Regions from separate parts of the Homo sapiens genome. Here region 2 is linked to region 1. The links come from fine-mapping of genetic effects on gene expression. Tissue or cell type: adrenal gland. Region 1 holds a variant in brackets; the other region holds the start of a gene. All regions are shown on one strand. Distances are between the middles of the regions.

Region 1 (5,000 bases):
TGGTACCATGTGGAAAAAAGACTGGATATCAGGGAAAGTTGAATGATAGGAAAACTGGTATGGAATCCAATGTATAACAGATGATGAGATTCTGTGGAAACACAGAAAAGAATGATCGATTCAAATGGCATTTCTGAGATGGAAATAACAAGATTTGATGACAGACTGACTGAATGGCGACAGTGAGGAAAAGGAAAGTCGGAATGCAATTTTGAAGTTTTGAGTTCAGAAGGCTGAGTAGTGACAGTGTTAACTACACTAGAGGAAAACGGTGACAGAAAGTTTGGGGTAAGAAGATAATGAGTTCAATTTTAGGCCTGCTAAATTTAAGACACGAAGGAAACATCAGCATCTGTAGATTTAGAAGAACGATAAAAATAAGGTACTGAAACTCAAGAGAGAATTGTAGGTGGGGAGAAAGAGTAATTTATAAAGCCTCAATAAGCAAAGATAATGAGAGCCACCAGAGAAAAAACGCCATGGCCAGCATACCAAGGAACTGAAGGCAGAAAGAAGCCATGTTAGGGAAGACTGAGAGCAATGGTTAGCAGGGTAAAGGGGACATTAGAAGAAAACATAGAAGGCTAAGAAAAGTCCCAAGGATGGTGGTCAGTAGCATTAAATGCTACCGAAAAATAAAATCATAAATAAGAACTTGCTACATGATCTCCCCTCTGATGCAGAAATAAGATGGTGTAAAGCTATGCTTTTCAATCTATATTACATTCCAGAATCACCAAGGAAGGCTGTTAAAAATGTTCACCCCTACCCTCAATGATATGGATACATTACTTCTGGAGTGATTAGTAGGCTGGAATCTACAGTTTATCAACTTCTCCATAATATTTTAAAAGTAGTCAGTTAGACAACATGATGCCCATGGATACAGATTTCCAAGTTAGCAAGACTTGGGTTTAAATCACAGCTATGCCACTTATAAGTGATGTGAATATAGGCAATTTAATCTCTCTAGTGCTTGGTTTCCTCATCTGTAAAATCATCATTCTGAGGAGAGAACCAGCTGCCCATACAGGTAACAAGGATGAATCCAAAGGGTTGCTAGCTATTTGGCTCTTGTTCATACAGGTTTTCATGGAATGGCCTTATTCCTTTCTTTAAAGTGCTGAAGTTCTGCACAGATGCATTTATTCATATTTTAATAATACAAACATATATCCCAAAGCCAAGTATTAATGTGCTTTGAATCATCTACTGTTTTAGATCTTAAAAGACAGAATTGAAAATGAAAATAATGTTGTTACAAGACACAGACTGATTGGGTAAATCAGATTACTATGTTAGGAATCCTATATCCACCCTCATGAAAGCCTCACTATTCTACATGTTCACCTTGCAAAGCCTCTGAATAAGCTCTCAAAGGTTATTTGTAGTTTAACTGACAGTTGATTATATACCACTTAAAATTAACATTTTAGGCACTATCTAAAAGTAGAGTTCTGCTCTGGCTAGAACACTCCTGGCACCTGATGACCTCCCCAACTCCCATTTCTTCCTAGCCTGCTTGAAAATGTGACCTGAGGTCACGCTGTTGCTGCTTGCTATCTTTACCAACTGCCTTGGGTAGATTAATGAGGTGAAAACAACAAATTCATTTTCACTGTATAGTTTTGCTTGCTGTTAGTATCTTGACTTTGTAGTGGAGTTTTCAATAGTACAGAAATGAATGGTGAGTTTGACTAAAACTATCAGAGGACGATATTAACTCATCGCACAATCTGATTAAAAGCTAAGTAACTGCTCCCCAGGAAAACACATACACACACACACAAACACACACCCACCCCACGATACAGCCTCAGAGGGTTCATGGACTCCATAAAAATGTGAAATTACATTATTATCATTTATTTCTAACATTCCAGTGTGAAAAATTCACATGCTTATAATCTACAGCATAAATAATGGTGATGGGCTGCAAGTTGCCCCCCC[CG/C]CCACCTCGCCCAAATTCATATGTTGAAATATTAACTCTTAATGTGGTGGTATTTAGGTGATGGGGCTTTGGGAGGTGATTAGTTCAGGAGGGTTGAGCCCTCATGAACAGGATTAATGTTGTTATAAAACAGGCCCCAGAGAGCTGCCTTGTTTCTTCTGCTGTGGAGGATACAGTGAGAAGACAGCCATCTGTGAACCAGGAAATAGGGCATCACCAGATATCAAATCTGCCAGTGCCTCGATCTAGGACTTCCCAGCATCCAGACTATGAGAAATAGTTTTTGTTGTTTAAGCCACCCAGTCTATGGTGGTTTGTTATAGCAGGACAAACAGGCTAAGATAATAAGGACTGAAGAGTAGCATAATTACAATTAAATAGGTAAGGCATGTAAATTATTTAGAAGCATATACGATACATAGTATGTGCTTAATAAATATTGACTTCTATTACAATGTTTTATTTTTATTTTATTTATTAATTTATTAAGTAATCCACTCATAGAAATATTTTTAAAAATCACAATTACACACACAGATGTTACAAAATAATCTGTTTTTCTTTTGATAAACATTGTATTTATTTTTGTCTATATCCACATCTGTATATTTATATCTATATCTATATTGATACCTATACATACATTCATACCTATCTACCAACTACCTACAACTTGTTTTTGAACAAAGATAGACTTGCATTATATATTATTTTGAAATTTAAAATGAGCATTTTGCATATCAATAGGTATGCATCTCCATGATGGTATTCCATTGTGGACCATGTAATGAAATTTTATTTAACCAATCACCTTAAGTTGGTAATTTTGACTTTTTCTAATATTTCTGTGTTATAAAAAATCACCAGTCTTTTATATGTATCTTTGTACACCTGTCTGATATTTCCCTAACATAAACTGAATAAATATAATATCTGCTCAAAGGTAAACAGCAGATATTCTAGGATCAAACATTTCCCAAGTTTTGAACACTGCTCATGATTCGAAGATACAGGCACAAGTTAGTAGATTCTCCTGAAAATAATTTTCAACACACAAATTATATTTCTTAATGTATATGTTTAGGATTCTACTTTAAAAGTATTTTTCATCATGTATATTTAATGTTTCATTTTAGTGCCCTCTAAGATACATCAATTTAAAATATTTGTCATTTCAATACCATATAATGGTATTGAAAAATTAGTAAGCATTAAGAAAAAATTCATCTGGGGACTACTAGAGGCAGGAGAGAGAAAGCAGGGAGGGCTGAAAAACAACCTATTGGGTACTATGTTCACCACCTGGGTGACAGACATTCACACCCCAAACCTCAGTGTCATGCAATATATCCACATAACAAACTGCCCATGTACCCCATGCATCTAAAATAAAAGTTGAAATTATTTTTAAAAAGTAACTAATTTTTAAATGGAGAAATTTAATTACATGAGGTTAATTTCAGTACTTAGAAAAATCTGAGAAAAAGAAAAAAGCACACAAAATATTTGGTAATATTTGGTAATGTAACTCAATTTAAGATTTTGTTTATATTTTAACTTTTATTTCATTTATCTTTTTAAAGTATAAATTCACTACTTTAAGAGCATCTCAAGAAGCATATTCATATAATATGTAATATGAAATTAAATTTCTAAGTTAGAAAATAGAACTTTAATTTAAAAAATTCAAAATACGGTAATGATTCTATTTTATTAGAAAATCATTTATTAATCTCTATTAGACATTTAGATTTTCTGAAAATGTTCCTTCAGAGAGGCCTCTTTTTAGACTGAAAAATATAGAAAGTTGCATACAACAAAGAGAGACAGAAAAATTGTATCAGTGATTGTAGACAAAACATTCTACAGGGTGGCTCTGAATGTTTTCTCTGTTGTAAACGAGCTGACAAGGGGCAAATTAAGTTTAATGTAGACAAACGCAACATTAAATTTCATATTTGGTTCAAAACCATAAACACAAGCATAAAATAAATGGAAGCAAATCACAGAAAGACTTTCAAAGTGACCTTGGGATAATAGTGAACCATTCTTAAGGCCTGAGAGAGAAAACTGGAAAATGCCTGTTAGTATCTTCCACTAGCTCAAAGCTCACAAACCTAATGAAGAAAAATATTATCATTAAAACAAGTTAAGAATGTCCTTCTCAGCTATGGGCTACAAATTACTTAGGATATATGGCAGTAATTCAGACAGTACAGTGAAATATGGTGACCCAAATGAGCCTATAAGTAAGGGTGCTGTGTATAAGGGCTACTGTGTATAAAAATGGATCAGAAATCTAAATTTATTCAGGTGATGGCAAATAATATAATTGATTTATTTTAGCATAGATGACTTGACAGAATGCAAACAATATGATCTGAATCAGCATTTGAATTTAAGCAATATGTATATTCCTAAATTATATATGAATATGATAGGTACACATATGTACATAATACATTTATATGTTCCTCAATGAATGCAACAGGTGTTCACAACTTGGGGCTCATGCATTTCTAATGATTTTCTAATATTTCATGCAAAATGTTGTATGTATGTTCACATGCATTTTTCAGAGGAGAGAAATGTGTTCTTTGGATTCTCCAGGCATCCAAAGATTAACTGTATTTGTGAAAGAACCATTCACTATATTAGAATGCCAGCAACTAGAAGAATGGGTCACAAGTAAGGGCTTTTAAGCAAAATAAAAAAGAAAAGTAGAAAGCTAAGTTAAAGGAAGCATTTTTAAAACCTTTGGCTGGTTTATTCAACAGATAAGAGGCTTAGAAAAGTCACATTTAAACTAACTGTAGCGCACAGAGGCAATGACTGTGACAGTTAAGAACAATAGTTCTGAGTCCAAAATACGTATTACAAGTAATCTGGCACTAACCATCAAAGCATGATCGTTCTGCTCATTAAATTATGATTATGATCAGTAGTGTAATAGATAGAATGTTCCTCGATTCAAAATGAAGAGAGGATAATCATTTTTTGAGCCATCGCTTGGGACCCTTTCTAAGAGAATTCAGAATTCATGGTATGA
Region 2 (5,180 bases), 220 kb after region 1:
TTCACCTTCTGCCATGATTGCGAGGCATCCTCAGCCACTTGGAACTGTAAGTCCAATAAACCTCTTCCTTTTGTAAATTGCCCAGTCTCAGGTATGTCTTTATCAGCAGCATGAAAACGGACTAATACAGAAGGGGAAAAGGCCAAGGTAAAGAAGGGAAGGAACATCCAAAACATCCTAAGGGAACATCCAAAAAATTTCAAATCAAAAGATATCTGTTGGGGAAGGATGAGACAGTCCATCAAAGAGAAATTTCCTTCTTCATCACCTTAATTATATACTGTTGTTTGTACCTCAAATTTTCTTCACTCCTTAGTAAGCATACTTTGCACCTAAGTGTTTGACTGGTTATGTATTTGTGTTAGGCCAAAGACACACAGTCCAAATGGATTATCAGAAATAAATGGAAAATTGGACAAGGAACTAAGACCAGATTGTATGAAGGAAAAATGTTTTATTCTTCAAGTGTTAACAATAGAAGTTACCACTAACAAATGCCAAATTACTATTTGATATGCCTAAATGGAACATGTATGCTAGCAAATGGCCATTACTCAGAACCAAGGACAAAAGTAAAATCCGGGTCAGAGTGAGGCATGAGGGCCCACTGGACGAGACTTTTCACCAAGCACACTGGATTCTCTTCCCTTCTTTATCTTGGCCTTTGTTCCCTTCATTAGTTTTGGCAAACCATGAAAGAAGATTATAAATGCTTCAATCCCAGTGGAGTTGGAAATAAAGTACATGAAAGAAACACTTAATAAAGAATGTTAATCTGTTTGTGTCATTTAAAAAAAAAAGGAAGGGGGTGTAGATAAAACATTTCCACAACTCTTCTTTAATAAATATCTTAAGTGTCCTTTTACAAAGCACACAGGTAAATTAATGTCATGGTTACAAGGACATCAAAAAAAAAATCTAACCACTACCTTTAATCACTATCTTTTGTTCTAAATTTTTTCTGACTATTTCTAAATCAAATCCAACCTTAAACCTATGACGATTATGCACTAAGTTTCTCTGAAAGCATATACTGTAAATTCTGAAAACAATTTCACAAGGCTGCTCCTCATATGGTTTATATAAGAGCATAATCATCTGATTAAGTGAGGGACAGCTCAAGGTGATTATTTTACAGAGGCCTCATTCACTACTATATACAAGCTCAAGAATGAAACTTCACATCCCTTACAATCCCTAGAGCAGTGTTTTATTTATAGGAGTTCCTCAATAAACACTTGCTGATTTGAATGCATTTAATACCTGAAAATGCTAGGACACAAACAATTTGCTGGGCTTTTTTCAAACTCCAAATCAACCCATTTTCATTACTCTCAACGCTCCTTCATGCCAGTTAACTAGTTGGATGTTTTCCATCACTCGAAAAATTGGCCATGTATATTCTGTTGCCAGGATAGTTTCCATTCTGCAGTGTCTCTCCTAAAAGGGGAGAAACTATTAAATCAAAATGGGGTAACCTCACAAGTATAACTATTACAACTTGTATAATAGCTCTTTTACTTCAAACAACAACGACAACAGAAAAAGACCTGTACCTTTTTAGTGGAACTTATGAATAGAATTATTAGCCCAGTAACTAAAGTTGTATGGTACACAATGGTAGAAGACAAGCTAAAACGACATTGGCCTGTAAAAGTTGCTTTCCTGACCTTTCTCCCTCTTCAAGATGGTTAAAGTCACACACGGACAAATGTTGATGTACATTTAACTTCTCAATGTTGATCCAAGGGGAGAAAAAATTGATCAATGTAGGTGTAATCTTCCCCTAAATGAGGAATATTAGCAAGGAAAAAACAAAAGGATATAGTGTCTGCCTGAAGGAATCCTCTTAGATATAAAATCACAACATTTGCTATGAAATAAACTAGAAAGTTTTAAATGCGTAATTACACGTGCCAGGAGTTATGCCCACGTTACTCCACAGGCCCACGCTAGTGGGTGCCAAAGTCAGAAAACCTGCAGCGGCGGTGAGTCACTCCCCAGCAGCACTCTGGGGAATAAGTGTTGGAGCCACAGCACGTACCCTATGGCGCAAGACCGCTGATTAGAACAGAGGGGAAAGGGGATGAGGAAAGAAGTTTCTTCAGCGCCCGCTCCGGGCACCAGCGCTGTCAAACCTGCCACTACGGAAGCCACAGAACCCGGTTACCCGAGTCACCCCGAGCCCCGCCCACTCAGGTTCCTCCCCGCCTGGGGCGGGGTTGGCGCGCGAGGGCCGAGGGGCGGCCCGTGTCCCGAGACGGCTCCTGGGAGGCGGGCTGCCTGTCTAAGTGGGGGTGGTGGGATTCCGGCGGTACCTGCGCTGGAAGTCCACGGCGTAGGGCTTCAAGTACGGGTCGATCTCCAGGAGTCTGGCCAGTTCGGGCACGTCAGCCAGGGCGGCATTGAGCGCCGCCTCGTAGTCCTCGGGCCGAGCCGCGGGAGTCATCGGAGCCGCCATATTCCGCCGCAGTCCAAGTAGCCGAGGCCCGAGAGGTCGAGTGGGGCCTGAGCGGGCGCTGGAGCTCTAGCTGGGACGCGGCGGCTAGGGCGGAGCCGGAGGGCGCCTAGGCGTGTCGAGGCAAGCCGAGGCGAGCCGCGGCGGTCCGGGGCCCTTTATAGCCGGGACGGAAGGCCTCCTGCCCTTTCTCCCCCCGCCAGCGGGGAGGAGCGGATCCCGGGGTGATGCCGGGACGCACGTCCGGAGCGGGTAGGAGGCACCGAGGCCTCTCCGCCCACTCACGCGGCTGGCACCTGGAGGCCGCAGGGACCTGCCCTTTCCTCCCCTTAACGGTTTTTTCCTGCTGGCGGAGGTCATTCTAGGAGGTGGGTCCCAAGCTGACCTCGCTCAGCCTTGGCCTTCCTCACCCTGACATATTCTTGGCTTTTCTTTACCCACTTAAGCACCCACTGACAGCGACCCCTTCAAATTGGACATAAGGGGTTTTTTTGGAAAGGACCGTATTTCTCAAAGTTCTGAGACTTTTGAGGGGCAGTATTTCAAACATATCATGTAAATTCACAGAGAGGGGAACAGTCAAGTGTAGCTAGAGTACTACTGCTGAAAATGTTAATACCTCTTACAACCAGGACTCTCCTAAGTTTGCCAGGTCACGTGAATTTAAAATTAACCAAGACACAGAATCCTGGAATACCGTTGGAATTCTGCTGTTCTGGTACTCTTTTCTGCATTACCAACAGCTAAGAATTTTAGCCATGGGAAGAACTTTTCTCATTCTCCGTAAGGCCAAAAAGGAAAAGGCATTTGCCTGTGTTTATAATTGTTAACAAGCTTTTCAACGATTAAACTACCTTTGATAACACAAATGATATCATTGAATTGGAACTCCACTCTGCCACTTACAGTGATAAGGCAAGAAACCTCTCTTCCTCTTGGCTTGGGAAGCTCCCACTTGGAATTCCCTTCTTTTATTGCCATTAACTGACTAGCTTCTATTTCAATAATTGCTTTTTAGGAATACAGAGTTGGACTCCAAGAGAGATGGACCCACCAAACCCAGGAGGGTCCAAGCTGCTTTACACCTAGAAACTAGAGAGGATTGAGGATATTTTTCTTGTTAAAACCCAGAACTGGAGGATCCTAGGGGTTATGGAGGAGAAACAGTATTAATCAGCCGTGGGCCTTGAATTTTAAAATATTTCAAAGGAAAGTTTTTATAAGGGGTTTCATAGACTTGAAAGATAAGTGGATATGAAGACAGACCTCAGTGTGAAAAAGTGAAGGACTTGAACGACTTTAAGACGTGCCTTGTTTTCCATAAAGATGACAAAAAACTGCTGCAGACATTTGTAAAATATAAAGCACTAAAAAAGGAAGAAAATTAAAAAAAAATAAAAACCCGAAGCAGGACAACTATTAATAACAGACCCACAGATCTACATCTCCAAGCCTAAACTTTTTTCAGAAACCCAGGCTTGTATCACTGCCTGTCTACTGAGATTTCCATTTAGCTGGCTAGGAGACCTAAACAAACTGTCTGCAAAACGTGACCTAGAATCCGTCTTCTCATCCTTCCTGCTGTCACTCTTATGCAGGCCACTGTTTTCCTTCACTTGGACCAGAATGTAGCTCTCTAACTGACTTCCCCTCTTCTACTCTTTCTCACCTCTACTCCATTCTCTGTACCAGTGTTTCTCACACTTTAATGTGCATATGAATCACCTAGGGATCTTAATTGAGTTCCGATGTGGTGCTTCAGATTGCATTTTTAACAAGCTCAGAAGTGATTCTGATGCTGGTGGTTGGGGACACAGTTTGGTGAGACTCTACACTGAGTAAATCAGACGATGTCATTTAGCAACTTAAATAGCATAGTATTTCACTTAGGGTAAAATAGAAACAGCTTATCATTCTCTAACAAGGCTTGTATAATCTGGACCCTGACTACCTTTCCAGCCACTTTTCTCATCATTTTCCAGTTTTACTATGCTCTAGTCACACTGACTTTCCTGGAACTCAGTGAATTTGTTGTATAATAGCCTCTAAGATTATTTGCTTGCTGTTCTCTCTGTTGGAAATTTTCAGGGAGCTGAGCTCTACTTGCTTAATTTTTTCCAAGCCTTCATTCCAGCCTCAGCAAAAATGTCACCTCATACCTGAGAAACTTCTGATTATAGACTCCTCAGTGTCTTCTGTATAACTTCAATCTCTTCTATGCAACAGTTAACAGAATCTAGGTGTTTGTTTTTCTCCTATTTATTGACCTTTCCCTTTAGAACCTAAGCTCCCCACGAGCACGATCCTAGCGTACATATCTGCCTACCTAGGTGGTTCACCATTGAGCACATATTTATTGAAGTCCCATGTGCCGGCCATTTTCCCACGTACTGTGGATAAATGATAAGACAAGTCCCAGTTGTCATACTCTATTGGGGGTAGGAGGGAGAGGAGACACAATTACCAGTGAAATACATAAAATAATACAAAACAATGTCAGATAGTGGTAAGTGCATTGTCGAGAATTAAAACTGAGCAAATATCTGTGTTAGTTCCGGTCGTCAAGAAAGGCCGTTCAGAACTGACATTTAAGCTGAAGTGTGATGACAAGAAGAAATGAGCCATGAGAGGAAGAGCATTCCAGAATGGCAGAGTTCGTGCAATGGAGGAATTGAATTGGTCTTTTAAAAAAAAAAAAAAATCTAGCATACCCGGTGTGTAA

What was found. PIP is the estimated chance that this variant, and not a neighbour inherited with it, causes the effect.
Region 2: GBE1 starts here. The variant in region 1 is fine-mapped to the expression of GBE1 in adrenal gland (GTEx, PIP 0.97).

The regions. Positions count from the first base shown.
Region 1 is chr3:81,539,508-81,544,507 of GRCh38, forward strand. All of the region lies in intron 12 of GBE1 (1,4-alpha-glucan branching enzyme 1), which reads right to left. Among named protein-coding and RNA genes, the nearest start is that of GBE1, 220 kb to the right of the region's middle. The variant CG/C (reference allele first, on the strand shown) is at 1,951.
Region 2 is chr3:81,759,057-81,764,236 of GRCh38, forward strand. GBE1 (1,4-alpha-glucan branching enzyme 1) reads right to left here and starts at 2,589. Exons shown (of 16, transcript NM_000158.4): 1 at 2,319-2,589. The coding sequence starts at 2,461. RefSeq lists enhancers at 1,868-2,037, 2,378-2,667, 2,454-3,062 and silencers at 2,138-2,217, 2,718-2,817.